Linked DNA regions of Homo sapiens. The protein of the gene in region 1 interacts with the protein of each later gene in a biochemical or structural test. Each region holds a gene or a part of one and is shown on either strand. Other genes may lie near its edges.

Region 1 (7,308 bases):
CCCGGAGGAGGTGACATCTAAGCTGAGGTCTGAAGGATGTGGAAGAGTTCAGTAACTCCTGAAGACCAAAAAAATGGTGATAAAAAAGACACCTTCCTAACTTTTTAGTGCTACGATCCAAGAGACAAACAAGCAGGTGAACGCATAACTACACTGGGCTCCACCATAAGCCAGAGCCTGTCTCTCCTAGGACTTTGGCATCACAATCTTCTCTGAAATTCTGTTTTCGGCATTGATTCTTGGGGGAGGTAGCAATATAGGAACTCAGTGTTCGTTGCGAAACTGATGGATGGTCTTCAGTCTTGGGTACGTTCCCATGTGTCAAACCTGTTTAAATGGCAGGACCCATCTCCCCTTCAGAAGCATTCACTTGTCCTACAGGATTCCCCATGGAATCTTGGAGTTTTTGAGGCGAGAGGGATCCTGGATACCACTGAGTTCTATCTTTCATCCAATAAACACAGAAGTGGACGCCTGGACAGGCAAAGTGACTTGACCAAGGCAGGTGCACAGCTATTCTGCAACATTGGGAACAAATCTCAGGTCTTTTGATTTTTTGTTTCCACTTTACTCTCTTTTCATTTCCCAGAAACAAAGTTTTCATGTGCTTTTTTTTATAGTGATATGTTTGGAATGCATTAGCTAGTAATTTAGGAAGGGAAAAAAATAAACACACAAGAGATAAACCTGTCAGGAGGACAAACCTGTATTGCTTCTGATTGGCTCAGAGGGTGATTATTATCATGGTAGAGAATTATTTAATCAGTGTAAGTAAAATTTCTCTGTGGGCTGGGCACTGTACAAAGACTCAAACGAATCTGTCTACAGATCTGAAAAGCAGATACGAGATCTGTGAATGGCTGGGGTTTCCAAGCCCACAGTACAAGCATGGGCCACACCTTACAGCTTGGAGGACTGAGCCCTGAAAATGGGCAAGTTCCTTCACTTCTCTGAACCTTATTTTTCCCACATTTAAAACAAGGATGAGTAGTTTCTGAGGTCCTTTTTACGACTTCTCTTCCTACAGACTCTAGCATCCTATAACTTGATACAAAGAGGGTGGATATGAACTCACCTTTCCTAGAAAAGTTCCAGGAAAGAGAATACCAGGTCATCCTAGTAGGTGTGTAGACAGGCCAGATAGATCTTGAAACTTACTCAGTTCTTCCCAGATGTATAACTCTATCATTGTTCTTAGCTGTCAAGAGAAAGCAGGAGAGCCTGCATCTTCATTCTTTTTTTTTTTTTTTTTTTTTTTGGAGACGGAGTCTCACTCCATCACCTAGGCTAGAGTGCAGTGGCATGATCTCAGCTCACTGCAAGCTCCGCCTCCCAGGTTCACGCCATTCTCCTGCCTCAGCCTCCCAAGTAACTGGGACTACAGGCGCCCACCACCACACCTGGCTAATTTTTTGTGTTGTTAGTACAGACGGGGTTTCACCATGTTAGCCAGGATGGTCTCGATCTCCTGACCTCGTGATCCGCCCACCTTGGCCTCTCAAAGTGCTGGGATTACAGGCGTGAGCCACCGCACCCAGCCTGCATCTTCATTCTTACTGTTAGCCTCAGGTTCACCCCACCTAGCTTATTAAGTGATGTTGAATAACCAATTCTTACATATTATTAGGCTCATGGACACCATGACATCCAGACTGATGGGTGCCTGCTGAAGGGGGTGACCCTAGCAGGAGGACTCCCCTACGCAAGGATTCATGGAGTTTGCTGTTTCTTTTCCTTAGGGTGAGAACCAAACTGCCTTCACACGGTGGGCAGAGGGGAACTGACTCAGGTTTGGAATAAGAGAGAACATCCCAACTGAAAAGCTCTTGGAATTCGCTGAACTTCAAGACACTGTGTGGACCAGCTTAGGATAGGGAGTGAGAAGAAATTAACCAAAAGGTAATTTCGTTACTTTTCAGCTGGAAAAAAGATCAGATTATACTTGTGCTTTCATAATTAAGTAGCTGCTGGAAAAAAACGCTTCAGATGCTTTCTATGAGAAAACTGCTGCTTGAAGTTCAGCAGAAGTTATCTACTTGATACTTATATTCCAGGCAAGGCCTTCCGTTGGAGAAAATATCGGCACTTTGGACAAAACTGAAATGTGAAAAGAAAGGGAAGAGAGGGCCTCTATCATGTAAGATGCTTATCCAAAGTGGATTTGGTCTGGAAAGTCTTCTAAAACCTTCCACATGACTGTGGAATAAGTCATGTGGGGCGCGGGGATAAGCGAATCTCTCAAATTCCACCACGTATGCCCTCATTCAACCTGGATCCTTAGAGTGGCCTCCAGGGCACTCTGCTCAGGACTCAGTCAGCTGTTGGCCACACCCATGCTCTCCAGTCTCCTGAGACCCTATTTGGTTCTGAGAGGGCTAAAAAGCAGTGTGGCTAAATATCCCAGGCCTCAAAGTATTCCTACTGTGGTTGGGGAAGCAATAGAATCATACCCCATAAAACAATGAAAACAGTGCTAGAAAAACATCGAGAGACAGAAACATCTCTACGAGTTAGGCCACAGTTAGAGTGAAGGCAGGGAAGGTTTTTAAAGCTGGGTGGAGGGGACAAGTCAAAAAGATGTGGAAACTGGTTTCCCTTTCCTATGGCTAAAGTGCTCAAAGGGGAAAAAGGAGTTTCAAAAATGTTCTTGGAAATACCATCTCTCACGAATTCTTCGGCCTCTGCTGTCCCAATGTCACTTGTCTGAGATGTAAACAGAGGAGTTCTGAGAAAGAAGCTGAACTTGCATTTCTCCCTGTTTCTATTTGTTCCAAACTTGTGGCATTTCTAACAGGATGAAGCGGAAGAGAAAGGGAAAGAGACAAAAGTGTAGAAAGATGGAAGATCCCAGCTGCAAATGGCCATTTGCAGTTAGATGGAACAGCTGCTGACGTTCAGGGAAATGCATGTCTCTCTTCAGATGGGAAGGAGCAGTGGAAAGGGGTGACGAGTTCCTGGCTGGCCACCAATCATCCCATCTTTCTGTGCCGGTTCCTCATCTGGAAAGTGGGAGTGATACTTGTGCTTGCTTTTCCTACCCACAAAGATTATTGTGAGAGCTATAATACGGTGAGATACAGAATCCTGCTTTTAAAAATACAAAGCAGAATCAAGATGTCAATAATAAGGATAGTAATTGTGTTAGTTATCTGCAATCATCTATTATAGCTAGTCGTCTAGGATCCTGGATCGTTCTCCTGGTTTTACTACAGTTTTGGATCAGCTCACCCCCAAATCCCTTGCTGAAGGGTGGAGCTCTGTCAGCCATGGGCAGGGAACCACTTCCTCTTGCCTTTCTACTTTCTGTCTTTCAAACATGCCCAGGGTCTTTGCACTTGCTGTTCCCCCTGCCTGGTACCTCTCTCCTGTGGCTTGCCCCAGAGCTGATCCTTGTCTTTGTCCACTTCTCAGCGAGGATGGCACTTCAGGGAGCCCTTCCCTTACTATCGCAGAGAGAGCAGGCCCTCCCCAGTCATGTCCAACCCAGAACTCTGTTTTGTTTTCTTCATAGCCCTAGCATCACAGAAAATCACCCTGTGCATTCATGGATGTCCACGGGGGCAAGGGCTTTGTGTTGCTTAACCCAGCATCCTGAACCGTGTTTGTTGAATGAATACAGAACCCCGTTTGCTCTGGGAGAGCACAGAAAACAGTCTTCTATCATATATCATAGCCAGCTGCAAACAGCAGATGGCTTCCCATATCCCAGAGAGTAAGAACCAGAGAGAGAGAGAAAGAGAGAGAGTTTGGGTCTTTCTCCTCTGTGCCTGCTCTCTCCAGAGAAACTGGAGGGGTAGCAGTTAGCATTCCCCCGCTGGTTCCACCAAGCACAGTCAAGGTCTCTAGGACATGGCCACCCCTCACCTGTGGAAGCGGTCCTGCTGGGGTGGGTGGGTGTTAGTTGGTTCTGGTTTGGGTCAGAGACACCCAGTGGCCCAGGTGGGCGTGGGGCCAGGGCGCAGACGAGAAGGGGCACGAGGGCTCCGCTCCGAGGACCCAGCGGCAAGCACCGGTCCCGGGCGCGCCCCAGCCCACCCACTCGCGTGCCCACGGCGGCATTATTCCCTATAAGGATCTGAACGATCCGGGGGCGGCCCCGCCCCGTTACCCCTTGCCCCCGGCCCCGCCCCCTTTTTGGAGGGCCGATGAGGTAATGCGGCTCTGCCATTGGTCTGAGGGGGCGGGCCCCAACAGCCCGAGGCGGGGTCCCCGGGGGCCCAGCGCTATATCACTCGGCCGCCCAGGCAGCGGCGCAGAGCGGGCAGCAGGCAGGCGGCGGGCGCTCAGACGGCTTCTCCTCCTCCTCTTGCTCCTCCAGCTCCTGCTCCTTCGCCGGGAGGCCGCCCGCCGAGTCCTGCGCCAGCGCCGAGGCAGCCTCGCTGCGCCCCATCCCGTCCCGCCGGGCACTCGGAGGGCAGCGCGCCGGAGGCCAAGGTTGCCCCGCACGGCCCGGCGGGCGAGCGAGCTCGGGCTGCAGCAGCCCCGCCGGCGGCGCGCACGGCAACTTTGGAGAGGCGAGCAGCAGCCCCGGCAGCGGCGGCAGCAGCGGCAATGACCCCTTGGCTCGGGCTCATCGTGCTCCTGGGCAGCTGGAGCCTGGGGGACTGGGGCGCCGAGGCGTGCACATGCTCGCCCAGCCACCCCCAGGACGCCTTCTGCAACTCCGACATCGGTAAGCGCTCCTGGTGCCCCGCCCGAGCCCCACGCTGCAGCCAGGACTGCAGCGCTGCTTAGGGAGGCAGGGCGAGCCCCACTCCTTTCCTCTGCCCCAGGAGAGGGGCAGACGGGGTTGGGGCGGAGTGGAGAAACTCGATGTCCTTGGGCGGGGGCGCTGGCATAGCTGAGAGGGGAAGATGCCCTGCAGAGGAAACTCACAGTGGCTGAGGGAGCCCCTGGCCGCCTTTGCTTTCCTAACTTAGGTCGTGAGGTTCCTACCGGTCCTTTTGACATCTGGAAAATGTCCCCATTCACTACTAACGGAGGAAGGGCTAGAAGAGAAGGGTGGGGAAAGGGTTCCCAAAACTTGGAATGCTAACTAAAGTGCTGGGAAATTGAATAGTTAAAAAAAAAAAAAAAAGTTGCCCGCCATGTGCACGGAAAGTTGCAGGAGAAACTTGGAGTACTCCGAGTCTGCATCATCTCCTGCGCCTATGAAATTCATTCTTTTCACTGAGACCCAACCCAGCTGCAGGCTTCCCAGGCAAGCGCTAACCGAGCTTCTGGGACTGCCAAGTTTGGGTGGATTTAAGGGGGAAAATGAGGAGAAAGCTGTGGCATTGACCCACGCCCTGGAGGCACTGTGTTTGAGAGTGTTGATAGCCAGCAGAAGGTGCGAGGGGTCACTCACCACATAGCTGTGAAAATTCACAGGAAGGCTATTTTTTTCCCCCTTGAATGTGTGTGGGGAGGGGGAGAATGGGTAGTGGAAAACAGATTTGTCACCAAAAGAACAAACCTGCCAAGGGTCACATCACGGTGACAGTTCCAGACTGGACTTAGTGTCTTGAGTAGAGAGACCCTGTAAAGAGACCTCCTACTCCTTAGTGTGTATGGAGGGCCCCGAGAGCATCCTGGGAGGCTTGTCTGGGAGTGTTTGGGACACTTGTGTTTGGATGGCTAAAGGTGGAGTGGCATCTGGGAAACATCTCTCTCCTCCTTTCCAGCCCATAAAGCGTGCAAGTCCAGTGGCTCTGCTGGGAGAGTGTGTGTGTGTGCACTGGGCTGGGCTGGGCGGTGGGGTGGGACAGCCTTGCCGCCCTCTGCCTGTGTCGATTCAGAGGTGAAGAATGGAGCGTGTGTGTTTTAAGTACAGTCATAAAGGAGAAGGAAATTTTCCACTGAGTCTTGGGTGAGGGACTCTACCAGCGTGTTGTGGTGAGGAGGGGGAGGAGGTAGGAGCTTGGCAGGGGAGGCAGTGAGGGCCGGGAGGGGCACTGCTGGTGGGCTGGGCTGAGCCTAGAGGTCAGAGTGGGGGTGTGGTGACCAGAATGTCAGTGCAGTTGGCAGCTGAGGGTGTTTGTGTGACCTGAGGTCACCCTTGTAAGAGGCTCCCTGGGGCCTGCATGGTACATCCTCCCCTCTCCTGGGGGAACCCAGCTGGCCCAGGATTTGTGGATTGCTTAGAAAGATCCTTTTGGGCAGCCTGAAGACTGGGGAGGGTTTTCCTCCCTCCTCCACCTCCACCCACATTCCACTTACCCTTTCCCTCCTCATCCCAGTTGGTAACATTCCCACCTGATTAGTGTGGGGAGTTGCTGCTGCAGCTGAGTTCTGGTTTTGCCCAGCAGGATCACACACGTGCGGCCAGGAGGCTGGCAGGTGGAATCAGGGTGTGCAGGGGTGCAGCCCAAGTCCTTTTCTGCTGGAAAATGGGCTGGGTGACTTCACTTGCGTTTTTTTGGTATGTAGTGGGAGTAGGTCCCCATTCTTCCCCCTTGCCCTTTGCTTTGGGGTTTCTACCCTAAAAATTGACCACGGAAAAGTGAAAACAAGCATGAGTAGATCCTGCTTCCAATGGGGGCCTTCCCGTCTGCTTACTGCTTAGGTTTCCTGCGGTGGGTCTGAGCAATGCAGAAAGTTTCTTACAATTTCTCTGGATTGAAACAAGAAATAGCTCCCTCGCTCCTCTTCATAAATTTCTCAGAGAAAATCTAAGTTACCAGGAAGTAGCCAAAGACCAGGAGATTGTGGAATCAAAAAGAAAAAAAGAAACAAAAAATCTTCGATGCTCTGGCACGGATCCCAAATTGTTCTGCCTGGGTTTGGTGAGCTGCACTAGTGGCAGGGATGAGCTAATGCTTTTAAAATGGGAGGTGTGGGTGTGAGCTGCTTGCCTGCCGACCTCCCTCGCCTTGCACAGCACCCTGCTGGCGTCCAGTACTTGGCTCCCAAGTTTCATTGCTCAGAGCCTTTCTGGTTTCCAGTCTGGGTTGAAACTGTCTATTCTCGCCCTCAAACAAATATGAAGGAGCTCCCCATTCCTTGGGACCCACACAACCCCACCAGTCAACTTTGTAGCCCCCTAAAGGTGTTCACATCAGCCCATCAACTTCCTGTTTTAAAACCATCATGGTGGTTTTCTCTTCATGGCTTGGTGCCATGTTGGCCTAGCAAAAGGCACAGGAGGCCTGGCCTGGTCCTCTCCGGGGGGCTGCCCGATGGCCTTTCCTCCTGTCTCTGCTCATCCACAGGTGTCTCTTTTTGTCTTTTTTCCCCAAAGTCCTAGGGCCTGGCATGGCATTCTGGGGGAGGAGGAGTTAAAAGGTGTTTCTATGGCAACTCCAGGCCCTGCACCCTATGGAAGTGTTT
Region 2 (7,000 bases), on another chromosome or scaffold:
GAATGAATCCACGGCACAGAGCCCATGTTCCTTCTCCCCTGGCCCAGGCCTTCCGCCCTCCCCTGCCCTGGCTCCAGGCCCTGCAGCTGTGAGAAGTCTTTCTGGGTCTTACTGCCTGGAGCCAGGCCAAGGAGCAGAGGTCAGGGATCTGGAAACCTTCCCAGCACTAGGATGAAGGAGTTGATTTGTTTTCCTGGGCGCCGCCTGCCTGCCTGCCCTGCACAATAAAGAAGTGTGTATTTGCAAGGAGCTGGGCCCTGGCTAGGGGCGGGGAGTCCTAGAAAGCGGAGACAGTCCTGGGTGGCTCACCGCCGCCCTGCAGGTCCACGACGGCATCCAGGTTATCGGGGATGGCATTCCAGGCATCTGCGATGAGCTTGGGGAAGCCAGGATCCATTTTCTTCTTCACCTCATTGTATCTGTAAAGAAACAGACACAGTGAACCAGCAGGGCCTCTCTAAAGGACACTTCCCCCCTGGCCTGGATGGGAGCACCCAGCTGATGGCTCCTGGATAGGCCTCGGAAACTGGACCTAGCCCTTCAGGGAAGCAGCCAGCTGCAGTGGAAGGAAGGGCATGGAATCAGACCTGAGTCTGAGCCTCAGATCTACCACTTTTAATTATATGACTTTGGATGACCCCATAAAAACAATCTCATGATTACTGCTAACATTTATAAAGCACTTACTACATGCCAAACAGTGTGTTAACCACTTTCCATACAGCTACAGTTTTACCAGCTGTAAAATGGGGTTGTGTCTAATTTAGTGTATTTAATTTAATGCATGCATTAAATAAAACAGCACATGCAGAGCCTCTATCCCCATGTCTCATAAATATTTAGTAGGTACTTAAGAAATGTTAGCTCCCTTACAAACAAATCCCTGCTGTAATCCGAGGAGTGCTAAACTAGAAGCCCAGGGATGGGAATCTGCCCCATCATTCTTTCACTTCATGGCTTGGAAAAATTGCTGCTTCTTCATCTGCCACAGGGAGATGACAGTCCCTGCCCTGGGAGATGACCATGGCTGGGGCAGTGAGGTTACAATGCAAGGTGGAAGGTACGTGTAAGTCCAAGGCCTGTTAGTCACAGGGTGGGCCACATGCCACCTCAGTTCCGGCGGCAGCAATCCTGGGCCCCGCCTTTAATTCAGGTAAATACTTTGGGCATCGGTTAGTATGTTCTTCTCCCTGGCTAGCAATCCTTCTGTCTTTTAAGATTTTTGGAGAACTTTTTAAATGCTGCTGTCATGTTGATTCCTTTGCCTCTCCACTTCATTATTCCATAAATATTTACTGAGCTCCCACTATGGGAGCTATGGATATCCTAGTAAACAAGTCTTGCCCAAGTGGAGCTGTTTCTAGATGAATCTGTGTTCGCATCCCATCCTGGTAGCAGCCACCTTTTGCTCCACAGTGCCTCCTAGGGGGCTCCCTTCCTTTCTGCAGCCAGCCTTGACCACCTCCACCCTGGACCCCAACAGCAGCTTTCCCTATATGCTCCCTTCTAGAGGAGACTTCTCCCTCAAAGGGACTTCTCCCTCAGCCATCACCCCGAAGAACTAACGCCTTCCTTAATCCCAGGTGCAGCATAAAACTCATTCTTACAAAACCTGGCATGCTTCCTCATGCCCTGGGTCACCAAAACCAAGTTCCCTAGCTCAAAATCCCAACACTCCCATCCAAGGCACCTCCACTGAGCCCTCAAACTACATTCCCTAGCGTTAGGATAGTTTGGAGATGTGTGTCCCACACTTGAACTGGCCCTCATTTCTTTCTCATTCTACCCACAGAAGGTGGGGATGGCAGAAGTCAAGCCCATTTTACAGATGAGGAAACTGAGTCTCAGATAAGAGAATTAGTTTGCTTCCAAGTTCTTTTCATCCAGAAAGAATACAAGCACTGTGGTGTCAGAAGATGTGGTACTTCTCTGCAGCTGTAGAAGTTGCCATGTATAGCAGGTGTTAAGAACACAGATATTTGTGTCCCAGCTTTTCCTTGAGCCACTTTAGCCTCAGTTTCCACACTTGGGAAAAGGAGCTAACAGTATCTACCTCAACTGAGAAATATAGGTGACCTGCATAGCCTCAGGCTGGGCTATGGTAGAGGCCCCATACTGAGAGCCATCATTATCTGATTCAAATGTGTTTACATAATTTTCCCTCATTCTACTATAAACTACATGAGGGCAGGGTGTGATGATTTTTTGACCCCCGTCTCTCCAGCAGCTAGCTAAGTGCCTGGCACACAGCAGATGTGGAACATATATTTGTGGCTTAGTGAAAGCTTCTACAAGCAGGGCCTGAGCTCTTCTTGGCATGCTGAAGACAGCTGCTCAGCCTCTGTCACTCTGGGGCTCTCTCTCCTTCTCCAGCAAAGATGCCTCTGGGGCCTCTGCAGACTCCACGGCAGGGCCAGTGTCACAAGCTCATTCACCACTTCTCTTGGAATAGAGATCTGTCTCCTTTGGAAGCCAGCCCAGAGCTTCTGATAGGCCCTTCAGCTCTGTCCCTTTTCAGGAAGTCTCAGGGTGGTTCCTCTGTAGAGCACGCTGTCTGTCCTGGCTCTGGCTTTGGGAGGTGGGCTTGTGTGGAAAAGGACTGGGAGGCAAATAACTCTGCCTGGAAATCCAGCAAGGCACTGCCACAACCTCCATGCCTGTGTGTGTGTGTGTGTGTGTGTGTGTGTGTGTGTGTGTGTGTGTATGCGCACATGCGCACACAATCATGTTCCTATATGCTAGGAACAGGTCTGTTTTTGCATGTTTACATAGATACAGTGCATGGAAAAGTGATTTAAAAAGTTCTTCCAACACCATAATTTGAAAACTTCAGGGCTTTAGGATTCTAAGATTCACGTTTCTGTGAGTCTGTGCGGCTCACCAGCCACAATTCTAAGACTTGGAGATTCAGGGCTCCTACAATGCTGAGATGCCATTCGCAGTACGCGTGTGTGTGTGTGCGTGTGCGTGCACACTGTCTGGGGCTAGTGTCTGGAGCTGGTGGGTGGAAAGCCTGCTCTGTGGTTTCCTGCCTGACTGTTTTCTTTCTTGAGGCTTGAGATATCAATCAGCTTAGGTTGCTAAGTGTCTTAGCAATATGTCTGGAATTCCACCCTGACATGGGCAGGCCTGGGATATAAAGAGTTTCTGAATGCAGGGCAGCTGGGGGGCAGAGTAGTGGGGAGGAGGGAAGGGGGAGAAGACAGAGGCCTTAGGAAGTAAGCGGGATTGTTTTGGGGATGGCAGACAAAGGCCTCAGGAAGTGCCCTCTAAAATTCTTGGGTAGGGCCCAGATGCAGTGGCAGCCATGGAAGGAATGTGGGGATACCAGGAGGGAGGGGATGGAAAGACACACCACAAGTCTTTGTGCCCCGACCACTCTTTCCTCACTAATCAAATGGACTGGCAGGTATAGTGGAGGGGGTACTCAGTTAGAATACAAGAGAAGTAGCTATAATCCTGGCTTTGTGCAAATACACATATCTCTATAGCTTGAACAAGTTATTTAATTTCTTTGGACCTCCGTTTCCTTTTCTAGAAAGTGTGAAGAATTACAGTCAAACTCCTGAGGTTTGGGCTACCTCTCACCAGCCACTCCTGGATATTAGGTTCCCTGGTCATGACTATAGCCCCTCAGAACTGGACCCTTTCCTGTAGATAACCTGGAGCACAGAACCATCTGCTTCCAAATTGTTCCCCTGCCAACCTGCACCCACAGCCACGGGCCTGCTGTGAGCATGACACAGGGCACCTGCTCCTTCCATGGGGTCTGATTTGGATGCTGGCTTCTATGGATGACTGGTGCACCCATCTCTAAGTCTTCTTCATATTTTGTCCACTGCCTTCATGTTCCCCCATCTCTTGGAACCCCCATTCCACCATCTCGGGTATAGAATAGTAGTGAAGAGTGAAGACTAACATGTTTTCCCAGGAGACAGAATGCCAGGGTTCAAATCCCAACCTGTCCCTACCTGGCTATGTGACTCCAAGCTGGTTACTTAACCTTTCTTTTTTCTTTTTTTTTTTTTTGAGTTGGAGTCTCACTCTGTTGCCCAGGCTGGAGTGCAGTGGCATGATCTCAGCTCACTGCAACTTCTGTCTTCCAGGTTTAAGTGATTCCCCTGCCTCAGTCTCCCTAGTAGCTGGGATTGCAGGCATGCACCACCATGTCCAGCTAATTTTTTTGCATTTTTAGTAGAGATGGGGTTTCACCATGTGGCCAGGCTGATCTGGAACTCCTGAGCTCAAGTGATCCACCCATCTTGGCCTCCCAAAGTGCTGGGATTACAGGCGTGAGCCACTGTGCCCAGCCACGGTTACCTAACCTTTCTGAACCCAGGTTTCCTCATCTGTAAAATGGGAGGAATAATAATTCCTATCCCATAGAACCCTTGGGACAGTCTCTGACACATAGTGTCAATAGGAGCAGTTATTATCTTTATTTTTATTACCCCCTTCTTCAGTGAGTCATTTCAAAATGTGAGGGTCCAGACCAGACATGGGCCAATCAAAAGAATTCTGCAAAGAGAAAGGATATTCCACCAGAATTATATCAGCAATGTGTACAAGAATGGTTCACCTTTGGCAACATCTCAGAGGTGCCAGAGACCAAAGAGGTTAGATACCAGAGAGAGGGCATCCAGAGCCCACCAACCTCTGAACTCAGCCCAGGAGGCTTGAAGCCTCAGGGCGGCTTCTCTGTCTCTCGCAGCCAACTGTGCTGCTGTCCTACCCACCGCCCTCCCTTACCTCCAGAATTTGTCTCCAGCAAAGATGTATGTCTTCTTGTTTTTGCTCCAGTTAAAGGCGGCATCCACTCGCTGGACATCAGGGGGCAGTCCCAGGCTGGTCAGTGGCTTGGGGTACCCTCGCTCCAGGGTGCTGGCTGAGTAGATCCAGTATTCATTCCCTGGGGTGGAAGCAAAGGGTGTGTTGGCTGGTGCTGACATGCCCTAGGCCAGCCTGTTCCTCCCATCATCTGTCTGTCCACGGGCCCCACTGCAGCCATTCCCAACAGAGTGCAACTTCCTGCTCACTCCTGGTTGCAGTGCCCAGAATCAGGGCTCACACAGAGGGCTTTAGAAGTCAATTACAGAAGGTGCCTGGTCAAGGACATGAGTTGGGGGATAAATCCAGCTCACACTCTGCTCACCAAGTCGTGCACTCTAAGGGCCTTGCTGTCATAAAGAGGCACCTTTTGCTAATTTGCAAAAAGGTGCCCTAGGAGCCAGCAGTTGTCCTCTCCGGGACCCATGATTACGGTGGATTGGGGGAGGTGGGAGCCAGGTGGTGGAGACAATAGTCTTGGCTGAGCCTTTATCTTCTCTAGGATCCCACCTCAGACCAGGACAGGGACCTCCTAAATCCTTCTTTACCCCTCATAAGAGCCCAGCTGTCTGTCTCCCTGAGTGGTTTGTGAGCATCGCGAAGGCAGAGCTTGTATCCCCAGGGTATGGCAAAGCCCAGCGCATGGAAATGCTCCAATAAATGTTAAATGAGTAAACCTTAGCCATACAGACCTCACCTTGATGATTTCTACCACTTCTAGGGGCTCCCTGTACTATTATTTACTTAACATTCTGCTTTCAGTGAATTCATTTTGAAATCTTTAAAAATAAATTTATTAAAAAATGTTTTTTGACTGTCAAAATATCAGTTACTGAATAATCCGTTTCTGTCCTGATTTGAAACTCCACACTATTATAACTAACTGCCTCTGTTAAAACCAATTTATGTCTAAAAGTAAAAATGAAAACAAATATTCTTTAAAACATTCGAACTAAAACTGTTACCTGCCAAAGACTGTATCACTACAAAGGCGTTAGGGACACACCAGCACTAAACTGAGACTTTTTTTCTTCTAGAAAAGAAATGAGACGGATTGAAAAGAATTAAGAAAATGAAATGTGTACACTGAGGGTTAATGCTATCTGATGTTGGGTGTCGGAACCAATCTCCCAGAGGAGCTGCGCACTTCAGGAAATAATGTTGAAAGAATGAATCCATAAAGGAAAGGGAGCACCCACGGGTGCATAGGAACTGTGGTTTGAGAGGGGGAGTGAGCCTGGGACACCCAGGAGCCCTGGTGCAGAGCCCTGTGGAGCTGAGGGCCAAGGAAGGGTGCTTCCCACACACCTGCAAAGAACACAGCCTTCTCCTCCTGTGGGGCCTCGTATACCGCATCAATCTTTTCCGGGAGCTCAGGCCAGAATGTGGCCACCAGCAGGGGCCCCATGGGCTTGTCACGTGGCGTCACAGTCCGCCAAATGAACCTGGCAGGAGGCAAGGGGGCACAGGAAACCACATCTTCAGTCACCCTGCAGCTCGAACCACACACACCCCCAAACCCACCCAGAAACATCCCAGAGATGATTCCATGATGGGAGTGGGAGGCAGGATCAAAGGAAGGTTGGAGAAGGACTGGAGAACGGGCAGAGTTCCTGTCTGCAATCTGCTGGAGCTGAGAAACATCCTCCTACCCTGTTCTCTCCCTCTACCTCCTCCAGGAAGCCTTCCCTGACTACCTCCATCCATATTGTGTTTTCCCTCTCTAAGCCTCTCAAAATCATCAACTCTGAGTGCCTGGAACAGTAGTGTCTGTTTGTCTTAACTCTCCTATTTGATTAGAGGCCAATTGGGGCAGGAGCTGATGACACTCAAGTATTTCCTGAATTAAAATGAAATGAATTTGTGTACTTTGTCAAGAGTAAGAGTTATCATTTATTGAGGGTCCTACTAAATGCCATGTGCTTTATTTATGTGCCTTGTAATTTAATCCCCACAATCTTTTAAGACAGCATGCACTCTGGATGGTCTACCTAGCATTAATTATCTATTTCCCCACCATCCTTCTTCACAAAACTCCACATTTATGATCCAGCCTTCACCTCCTCTGACCCTGTGTCCCCTACCCCCATTCTAGGGGTAGATACTGATTGGTATAAGCCACTGGTTCTCAAAGTGCAGTCTCCTGACCAGCAGCATCTGCGTCACCTGAGAA

The links. Proteins that work in one complex are often made in the same cells at the same time.
Region 2: the proteins of TIMP3 (region 1) and MMP2 form a complex in vitro, tested with the Homo sapiens proteins (one study listed by BioGRID).

The regions. Positions count from the first base shown.
Region 1 is NC_000022.11:32,797,451-32,804,758, forward strand, and holds the start of TIMP3 (metalloproteinase inhibitor 3 precursor), read left to right. Parts: upstream 1-4,254; 5' UTR 4,255-4,551; coding exon 4,552-4,672; intron 4,673-7,308.
Region 2 is NC_000016.10:55,496,198-55,503,197, reverse strand, and holds part of MMP2 (72 kDa type IV collagenase isoform 1 preproprotein), read right to left. Parts: intron 6,273-7,000; coding exon 6,136-6,272; intron 4,910-6,135; coding exon 4,750-4,909; intron 420-4,749; coding exon 310-419; intron 1-309.